Regions from separate parts of the Homo sapiens genome. Here region 2 is linked to region 1. Evidence: fine-mapped expression QTL. A gene starts in region 1. The other region holds a variant in brackets. All regions are shown on one strand. Distances are between the middles of the regions. Region 1 holds the start of SPTLC1 (serine palmitoyltransferase long chain base subunit 1). Region 2 holds the start of ROR2 (receptor tyrosine kinase like orphan receptor 2).

Evidence for each region. PIP is the estimated chance that this variant, and not a neighbour inherited with it, causes the effect.
Region 2: its variant is fine-mapped to the expression of SPTLC1 in visceral fat (GTEx, PIP above 0.99). The same link has a PIP of 0.9 or more in whole blood.

Annotation. Positions count from the first base shown.
Region 1 is chr9:92,112,778-92,118,153 of GRCh38, forward strand. It overlaps SPTLC1 (serine palmitoyltransferase long chain base subunit 1), which reads right to left and starts at 2,636. Exons shown (of 15, transcript NM_006415.4): 1 at 2,537-2,636. The coding sequence starts at 2,593. RefSeq lists an enhancer at 3,139-3,198.
Region 2 is chr9:91,946,545-91,951,920 of GRCh38, forward strand. ROR2 (receptor tyrosine kinase like orphan receptor 2) reads right to left here and starts at 3,684. Exons shown (of 9, transcript NM_004560.4): 1 at 3,323-3,684. The coding sequence starts at 3,419. RefSeq lists enhancers at 2,475-2,976, 2,977-3,476 and silencers at 3,670-3,849, 3,963-4,257. The variant T/G (reference allele first, on the strand shown) is at 2,190.

The DNA of each region.
Region 1 (5,376 bases):
TTAAAACTTCTTTGGGAATAAAAATTAAAATTAAAAAAATAAAATCTAGGCCAGGCGTGGTGGCTCATACTTGTAATCCCAGCACTTTGGGAGGCCAAGGTGGGCAGATCACCTGAGGGCGGGAGTTTGAGACCAGCCTGACCAACATGGAGAAACCCTGTCTCTATTAAAAATACAAAATTAGCTGGGTCTGGTGGCGCATACCTGTAATCCCAGCTACTTGGGAGGCTGAGGCAGGAGAATCGCTTGAACCCAGGAGGTGGAGGTTGTGGTGAGCCGAGATCACACCACTGCACTCCAGCCTGGGCAACAGGAGCAAAACTCCGTCTCAAATAAATAAATAAATAAAATCTAACACAGAATCCCAATATTAACCATCGGATTATTTAATTTCAGTGGTTCTTTTTTGGGTACACTATACAAGACTACTCAAATTCTACATTCAACACGCATAGGATTTGGGAGTAAGAAGTTTATGATGAATTTTAAAATTTGCTCATCCCCCTAAATACAATTCATTTATGAATAAGTCTAAATACCCTTTTAGTTTTCTCAATAGTTGGATTCTAGCAAGCAAACATCTGCCCCAGCCACTAGTTAAGAGCCCACTCCAAAAAGAAATCACCCTAAGAAAAGCTGAGAAACTCTCTCTCTAGTGAATTAATAAAAATCACAAACACCACTTCTTTTCCTTCCCAGGAAATGTTACATACAGGAGTTCTCCCAAGTCTCACTGTTGGACAGTTTCGGGGAATGAGAAGTTACACTACTGTCAGTCTTCAAAAAGGGAGCAAACAACATTTAACAGAAAATAATCCATTTCTTTAAAAAATCATTTATAAAAAAGATCATTCAATTTTAGTGGCTCATTTTAGGTCACTACAGTTAACCTAATACTGGGCATCACTTAATACATGAGCATAAGACAGAGCCACATCTGCTGTCTCTGCTGTTTCAAGATAAAATTCCCAGTATGTCCTGCAATGGAAGACACTGTCATTACCCCTACCAGTAGACGGTGATATTAAGTTTGGTGATATTAAATCATCAAAAGTAAAGTGAAATTCACTTGAAATGAATGTAAGCTCTTTAAGCACAGGGACTTCTGCCTATTTGTTCACCGCACTATCCCTAGCATCTAGATCTGTGTGGTCCAATGTGGACAGTCACTAAGTTACACGTGGCTATTTAAGTTAAATTAAAAATTCAGTTGCAGCTGGGTGTGGTAGCTCATGCCTGTAATCCCAGCACTTTGGGAGGCCAAAGCAGGAGGATTACTTGAGGCCAGGAGTTCGAGGCCAGGCTGGGCAACACAGCAAGCCCCCGTCTCTATTAAAAAAAAAAAAAGATTAGTTGGGCATGGTGGTATGTGGTCCCAGCTACTCGGGAGTCTGAGGTGGGAGGATCGCTTGAGTCTGGGAGGTCAACGCAGCAGTGAGCTGATCGCACCACTGCACTCTAGCCTGGGCGACAGAGTGAAACCCTGTCTTTAAAAAATAAAATAAAATAAAATAAGTTCTTCAGTGCCCAATGAATAGCTCTGCAAGACAGCACGGGGACTCTCAGTTATTAAATGAATGAACACTAAGATTGACATTCTGGTTTCTTATTATCTTATGTATCTGAAATAACTAGGCTTCAAAAAACTCTTAACTATTCTTCCTTTAAAAGTCTACGGCCAGGTGCAGTGGCTCAAGCCTATAATCCCAGCACTTTGGGAGGCCAAGGCGGGCGGATCACCTGAGGTCGGGAGTTCGAGACCAGCCTGACCAACATGCAGAAACCCCGTCTCTAATAAAAATACAAAATTGGCCGGGCATGGTGGCACATGCCTGTAATCTCAGCTACCTGGGAAGCTGAGGCAGGAGAATCGCTTAAACCCGGGAGGCGGAGGTTGTAGTGAGCCGAGATCACGCCCTTGCACTCCAGCTTGAGCAACAAGTGCGAAACACCGTCTCAAAAAAAAAAAACAAAAATAAATAAATAAAAATCGACTAAACTAGTTGTATCTTTATAAGACAGAAAACTGATGTACGCAGAAGAATGACAAACTATTTTTTATTCACAAATCCTAAGTCACTTGATTTCTTTTCGACAAAAACAAACTCCAATTTATTACAATTTTATTCCCCAACGAACTGTACCGTAGTTCCAAAGAGCTGACTTCCTTAGGACCTTCCCAGACGAAGGTGTTCCACTCATTTTCACCACTCCGTTTTATCGTCCGTCTAAACTCTGGTTTTTGCAGACCTGTCTCCTGCGTCCCCTTACACGTGTTCCTTTCCGGAGCTTCCAGGGGACCCGGAGCATAAGAATTCAAACCGAGACCCTCAGTCCCAGCCCCCGCCCCCGCCCGTTCCTCCCTACACTCAACCGCTGGGACTAGAAGCTCCCGGCAGTCCTTCCAGCAAGAGGCACCGAGTCTGGGCGTGACCGAGCCAGTCCCGCCGAGGTCTCAGGCCACAAATCCACACGCGTCCTCCCACCCTCCCCGGGCCCGGGTGTGGTCGCGGACCGCTAATGGCGCGGAGCCCACCTCGTAAAGCGCCTGTACCATCTCCACCAGAACCCACTGCTCCGTGGCGGTCGCCATAGTTAGCCGCTTCCTTCCGGAAGGCGGGTCACAAGCGCGTCCCAAAAGTGCGCGTCGCTGCTCAGTGTCGTTATCACCTCCGCAGAGGGCGGGGCGGCGGAGCGCTGGGCACCGCCTACTCGCACTTGCGCACTGGTTGACAGGAGGCTGGACGGGGTCAGGTGGGATGCCGCAGTTTTTCCAAGAATTGTTTACCTTGTGTCCTATTACCCTCCCTGCTGGATTCAGGATGGAGAAAGTAGTAATGAACGGGCCTTACACTTGGTCATCAGCTGGGCGCAGAGAGTTAAAATGATTGCAATACGTTTACTTTATTTTTTTTTTTTTGAGACGGAGTTTCGCTTTTGTTGCCCAGGCTGTAGTGCAATGGCGTGATCTCGGTTCACCGCAACCTCCGCCTCCCGGGTTCAAGCGATTCTCCTGCCCCAGCCTCCCGAGTAGCCGGGATTACAGGCGTGGGCTACCACGCCTGGCTAATTTTGTATTTTTAGTAGAGACGGGGTTTCTCCATGTTGGTCAGGCTGGTCTCAAACTCCTGACCTCAGGTGATCCGCCTGCCTCGGCCTCCCAAAGTGCTGGGATTAGAGGCGTGAGCCACCGCGCCTGGCCAATACGTTTACGTTTAGTAGCATAAGTAATCCAGCAATGCATTATCATTAAGAAATGCATAATTATACACAAAAATAGCCAACCCATATAGCACTTCCTGTTTTGTCAGACATAGGCCAAGGCTTTGCAGGTATTAAATCATATAGCAGTTTGGTAAAGAACCTTTTAGAGCCTTCCAATGCATATGCAAACAGTATGCACGCGCACATACTTAATTGGATTGGATTTCTTAAATATAATTGAGATCATAGGGACAAGACTTTTCTACAACTTTTTTTAAATTTTTTTTCTAGCATTTTTTTCCTAATATATCTCATATTTAATGGCTGAAGACTTCCATGGAATAATTTATGTATATTCATCGTTCCATTTTATGTAAACGTTTCCCTATTGGTGAATACTTATGTTGTTCCCACCTTTCCCCTATTACAAATAATGCTGCCATAACTGTCGATGTTCCTTGTGTGTATATCTTTCTGTGCATGTTGGAGTTTTTCTGACCAGTTTTTTCAACATGGGATATATCTGAAGACTATGCACGTTATTAATTTTGATAAGTACTGCCAAAATGGCTCAACCAATTAAAATAATTTGGAAGTTTTTCTATGCTCTAGTCCATGATGGATATTATCAATCTTTTAAAAAAATTTGCCAGTTTAATGGAGATAAAATGATACCTCACTATCCTTTATTATTGATGCTTCTGGTTACTCATGAGGTTGTGCAGCTTCTTATATGTTTATTGGCATTTATAGACTGTATGAATCGCCAATTCATATTCTTAATCCATTTTTCTATTGGTTATTTTTGCCTTCTTATGGATTTGTAGGAACTCTATACATTCTGAATATCTTATATTTTTCTGTTTCATATGTGAAAAATATTTTTGCTCAGTTGCCGCCTAGTTGTTTCTGCTCTTTCATCATACTTTAATTTTAAATTTTATGTAGTGCTTCAGTCTGTTTTTTGCCTCTGGATCTGCATATTGCTTAGAAAGGCCTTCTTCACCACATCTATGGTTTCCAACCATTCTTGCAGCAGTTTGTTGTTATTTGCAATTAGCTCTTTACTCTGGAAACTATATTTTTGGATAATGAGAGTTAAGGGACTTAATTATGTTTTTTTCTAAAGGAATAACAATTTTTTGAGTGCCATTTATTTGAGTAACCCTGACTTTCCCCAGAATTCTGAAATGGTACCAGTGCTATTGATACAGGAGCCAAAAAGAAATTATTTAGGCAGATAGTGAAGGTAAGAGAGTCCTCAGCAGAGCTTCTTTCTGAACAAAAAGCAACCCCAAAATTATTTCTTTTTTGCAAAGAGCAGCCTGAAAAATTGAGCTACAAACATAGATAAGCAAGCTGGCAGTGCACGGGAGAATGCTGGCAGTTGTGCCGATAGAAAAAGACTACCTGGAAGCCAGGTATGTTCAATATGGAGACTCCATCTTCCATTTTCTTTGTCACCACGTGTACAGTGAAGGAACAGGCAACATGGCATCAGTCAGGTAGAGAAGCCATCTGCAGAATAAAATATTAGGGTGGGAAGGCCAGCTTCTTCATGCACTATGCAAATGGCACACCTGGTCCAACCAGTCTTTCATTCCCTACGTAAATCAAACGCCACTTCCTCAAGCTCATCTATAAAACCCTGTGCGTTTCACCGCAGAACTGGCAACCCATTTTCTCTGGGACCCCTTTCTCTGCACAGATAGCTCTTCTCTTTCGTTTGCCTATTAAACTTCTGCTCTTAACCTCACTGTGGTGTGTCGCGTCCTAGTTTTCCATGGCTGTGGGACAATGAACCTCAGGTATTACCCCAGATAATGATGCCGCTACACTATGTGCTACATTTCCACATAAGCTGGCGATATGGAGTCCGTGTCAGTGCTCTGCTCACAGTCCTGTGCTTGCGTGCATTTCCTCCCCCGGGTGCTTTCCTTCCAGCAGCCACGCCTGCATTTCTCAGAGGACCCCCTTGAAGGCTGCCATTCCCACGTTTCCTGCTCTCCTGGAGAGTTGGAAGTATCTGAGAATGTATCTTCTCCTGGGCAGTACTTACCAGTGTGGATTACTGATGGTAGCTGGGATATAAATATTGCAGCTTCCTTGCCCTACTTAGCAAGACAACTCTGAGGGGTGAACTTCACCATACTCTCTGCAATTCTGAGTCAA
Region 2 (5,376 bases), 170 kb before region 1:
CAAGGAACCATTTTAGAAGATGGTTATAAACCCTGGGAAGGAGTAACAGTTTGTAGCGTTAACTTTCTTTTCCCTGACTACAATGTGGAATTATATAATTAGAACTCTCCAAGGGAAAGGATTACAAAGAGTACACAAATTTCCAGCACTACAACAGACTAGCCAGGTCCTGCAGATTAGGGAGCTCAAGTCCTTCACATCCAGTTCCCATTTCACTAATAACTTTTCCCATCCTGGCCTCTCAGGGAATGCATTTTAAAGGAGTGCCAGTCCACCAGCTGAAACCTTTCTAAAGGGGATTAATCTTCCCTACCTGTCAGATGAGCTGTTCGTACCCCTGTATTTCTATTCCACTGATTTCAGAAGAGCTTCCAAAGAAAAGAGCAGTGTAAAATTCAGACTCTGCCAGACTTAATCTCTTGGAGGTTAAATCCAGGCTAACTGTTTAAGGGGCAACAAGTGATTCACTGCAAACCACACTTAAGAGAGAGACATACAAACACCAATTACAGCAGCACTTTGAATAAACAATAAAAAAAAGGTTTCACAATAAAAATAAAAATGTTGTTTAACATTGCCTTAAAAATCTGCAGAGCAGTCACCAAAAACTACCCCTGGAAAACGCACATTTTAAAAAACCCATGTTGCTTTTTTACATATAAAATATAAAGCAGACTTGTCAGTTTTCCATGATTTGCTTTACTAATTAAAAGTTCAGCTTGGCTTTCCAGAGCCCTCTCAGTTACACTGAGTGTCACATAGGGTCCACGGCGATCAGATTTTCAGGGTGACATGCTTTATGAAGTGGACATGAGAGTTAAGCAGGATCTCACAATTATACTGAAAAATTTCAAATGTGTAGCTCTGTGCTTGGTACACAGCCGTAATAAGAAAAATATGTTGCCTTACTATATACATAAAAACTTTTCTTTTTCCACAAAGTCTTCTTATTCAAGATGTTTCCATTTATTTTCTTCTAGATGGATTTCTTCTAGACGGATCACTATCATTATTTATTACCACCATCACTCCAGGGATCTGGGCCAAAAGTAAACACTACACTGCCAAAAATGGGGGCTGGGGGGACCCTAATGCTCCATCGTTCCCCACCTACCCTACCTAGGATTGGTATATAGTCCCAAATCAGTATTTGTCATCAGAGGAAACAGAGTCTTGCTATTAAAATGTGGAATAAGAACTTACAAATCCTTTTAGAAAAACCCCTAAATAGTTTTACATAATAAATTATTTCGTGGATAAAACACACTCAAATAACAGGGACTCCTCTTTTCACAGCAGAAAAGATCCCAAACACTCAAATCTCCTGTAATCATATAATTTTATTATTATTTTGAATAAAAATTATCATACTCTTTGGATTTTGTTAACCTAGCCATACAGAACGAAGAGAATTATATCCTATGCCCTCTCCTATAAAGATTATGAGTATTTCACTAGAAAAAGAACAGGGTTCAAAAATTAAAGAAAACGACTCCAATTGCTTTGTTCATATAAGACATTTGTACATTCACTGGAAACTATGAGTGTTTAAATTCCTTCACCCAAAACTCAAGGAACTTTCCTGTTACAACCACCTTGGCTTAAGCAATGGACCCATCATGCTTTCCTCATCACCCATCTAAAAACCCCCACCACAGCACCGCCCCTCAAAGGCTGCGCTCAACCCTCATGGTCTGCAAGGCAGAGTTTTTGTAGGACAATTAACCGCAGGGTGAACAGCAAAAGCCGCCCAACAGCACGTCCAGCAACGTGTTTAAGCCGCCTCCCCGCCACCCCTCTCCCCCAGCAAAGGGATCTCCTGGGAGATTCTTGGGGGAGGGGTTGCAGAAATCGACAGAGGTCTTGAGTGATGGATACCAACTTAGAATGTGGTCTACTTATTTTATTGTGCACTCTGAGCGGTTTATGCTTTAATGCACAGTGAGATAAACGCAAGCTCCCTTCCCAAATCAAGTAATTAGGAATGTCTGACGTAATCAACATCTGCTTAAACTAAAACCCCCCCCCAGGAAAGACTGTGCAGCCTTTCTGACTCGCGTACCTTGGGCCGGCTAGGGCGGCAGGCCAGGATACCTGGAGCGCGCAGCTCCCAGCAGGACGCAGGAAAAGCAGAGCGTCTCCCAGCCTGCGACTGTCCCGATTCTCACCTTCCTGCAGGAGTGCAGGGA[T/G]GGGGGATACTGAAGCCCATTTACTAGTAAGAAGTGTCTCACACATTCCGGGGGCTTCAGGCGAACCCCATAGGTCTCTGGCGCTCCTGGGCCTGAAGGCCCCGCCCGCCCTCCTCCACCCCCGCAGGGTGCCGAGAATCCGGCCCGAGGCGCGCGGGCGGGAGGTGCTCCCGGAGTCTGCACCGCCAGAGCTAACGCCGCCTCCTCCAGGCAACCTAGGCAGGTCCCAAGCTGCACTTCCGAACCTCCCCGCCGTTCCTCTGCGCCCCGGATCCAAGCAGCCGAAACCGCGCAGGGACTCGGGGGAAGTGGGGCCCCGGGAGGAAACCCACCTAGGAGCCGGGCCCCGCCCCTCCCGCCGCCAGCCTCCTACAGGTCCCGGGGGTCCCCCCGGCGCGGCCAGAAGGCGGCCGCGCCCCAGCCGCTCAGGGACCCGCGATCCCAGTCACAAACCATTTCAATCCAGATCACACACCACTTCGGCCACCCCAGAGCGGTGGGGGAGAGGAGGTTTCAGGGACCAACAAAAGGGATGCCAAAGAGCCCGTTTCCATCAAGCGGCCCGCGGGCTGGGAAAGTCAGGACCCGGGAGCCGCCGGCGCCCCCACCCCCGCCGCAAGAGCCGCTTCTCCGGGGCCACGTCCACCCCAGGATTCTGCCAGGCATCAGGCCGCCCTGGGGGTGGGGGGACGCTCCGAGACAGACGGGGGACACTCGGGGCCGTGTGCCCTTGAAGGAGGAAGACCTCGGGGAGGAAGCCCGGGTCCTGGGACCCTCGGGGCACATCTGCGGACTCGGGTCCCGGGCCCAGGGCGGGTACTCACATTCACACTCGCACTCCCACTCGCGACCCTCGGGAAGCGCCACCGAGAGGCTCCCAGCCGCCGCCGCCCGCCCCCAGACTCTGGAAACACTTAGGCGTCCCCAGAGCGCGGCTTATTGTAACCAGCCCGAGGGGGTCCGGGGTGCGGGCCGGGAGCGGCGTCGGGCGAGATGCGAATGGCCCTGCCTGGCGCCCCTCGTTCAGGAGCATGGGCGCCGGCGCAGCGGCCGGGAGCATAGTGGCGGCGGAAGGGCTGGCCAAGCGAGCCGTGAGCTACCGTCTGCGCACAAGCCGGAACGCCAGATCCTACCTGAAGTCCGGGACACTGAGAGCAGAAGCGCGGCGGCCGCCCAGACGGCCGGGATGCACAGCAGCGGCCGCCGCGGGAGCGCCGAGCCCCGGGCCATGCCGCAGGCAGTGGGGGCCGGGAAGCCCTCAGAGCTTCGGGCCGGGGCGCGGGGTCGGGCGCCACCACCCCTTTCTACGATGCGTCCGCTCCTCCTTCTCCCTGGCGCTTCGCAAACGGGTCCACTTCGAGGACCTCGTCGTCGTCCTCTTCTCCGGCCCGGATGCGCCGCTCGGCTCCGGCCACGGCAAGGGCTGGCTGGGGAGGTTCCTTGGCGCGGGCTGGGGCGTCCCGCCGGCCGCCAGGACGAGCGCGGGGGGCGGACCGCGGGCGAGCGCGCAGGAGGCAGGGTCCCCGCTCGCCCGCCCCGATGGGCAGAGCGAGGCTTGCGCCGGCGCCCCCTGCCGGGGGAACGCGCGGGCGGCGGGCGGGACCCAAGGAGCTGGGGCTGCAGCTGGGGCCCCGGACCTGCCTCCTGCGCCCGCCCTCGGGCCTGCGCCTCGGAACGCTTGAACACAAAGGTGGCGCCTTGGGGGCGTCAGCCGGAGTTCGGCGGGTCTGCCCACGCAGGAGAGGCGCCCAGAGCGGGTGCCCCCGACTTTCGGGGGCGACACACCCGGGGATCTAGGTCACAAATCAGTAACTCCAGGCTGCACTGCGCACCGGGACAAATCTGAGAGCCACCCAGCCCCAGACACCAGCGGTGAGGCAGGAAGAGGAGAAGCGAAAGTTGCAAAAGGAAATGTTCAGGAAAACAAACAGGCCGCCTTGGCACCGGCGCCCTCCCAGGTCGGTGGGGACAAGCGCGTCCCCCGAAATGCTCAAAACTGCCAGGGGTCGAGCTGCGTGGAGGGAGCCCTCGGGAGCGCGATGCTATCCGAAGCCACCGCGGCTTTTGGTTTACTGTTAAAAGCAAATTGTATAATTTTACCCATTAAAGGCAGAACACTATTTGTTCTCTGCAGAGGCCCAGAATGTGCAGAATTTGCTTCACTTATTAGAGACATTTTGAACGGAATTCAAATAGCATGTTTTCTTGCTTATTCTTGGTTTTGCTCAGCACATGCAAATGTCTTTGTTTTTCCTCTTAGAGGAAGGAATTGGATTCTCCAGCATCTCAGTTGCTTGTTCCATGAGATTGATCTTTTAACTGATTATCCAGCAGTTTGTTTGGTGTTTTTGCTGGAGTACCAAGCTCTGTTAATTGGAGGGCATTAGGGAGAGCCCTGGCCTTGGGTGCCAGACGTGAGGCCTCAGACGTGGCCAGAAATAAAAACTCTCTTGCTATGGTCTGCGGACAAAATGACTAAGCCAGCTCTAGCTTGTTACCTCTGTTAAAAGTATTTAGGCGTCCGGCTATCTCTACCCAATTTGTGTAGGGAAATATCTCACGCAGTTCTCATTCCCAGGAGCTGCTGTAAATCCAGTAGGAGAATGGGAGAAGATCCTAGCCCCTCCTCAACTGGATGGCAAAATTATTACCAAACTTCTTAGACGGGCTCAGGCTGTTCCTCTGCCCAGGCTGGTGCGGGTCTGAACGGGGGGGCTGCTCTCCCCAGTGGTTAGAGGACTGCCAGGGGTTTATCTTTGGGGTTTTCCTCCCTTTAGCTTCCCTTAGAATCCTTAAGGATGCTTTTAGAGTAATGTTTTAAGAGTAGGTGCTGAAGCACTTAGTTCCACACCCCTCTCTTCTGGATCTAGGGAAAACCCAACAGGGGCTGCAGAGAAGGGTCTTGAACCTGCCCTGGAAAACCCCTCCCTCAGCAATGCTGTGTCCTTTCCGTGGTGCTGTGCAGCTCGGAGAAGGTGGTCCCAGCACCTTTGCTTTCCACTTCACACAGCGTGAGCATGTGGCTCCAGAACCATTTCATCAGCAGCCCTGCCATTTATTTTTGTGTGACCTTCAGGAAAATGACCTCATCATGCCCCCATCTGTGTGTTATTTTCACATGACTGAGGCCCCACAAACCCAACTCAAAGGTTTAAACAGCAACATATATTTTGCTGACAGTTTCTTG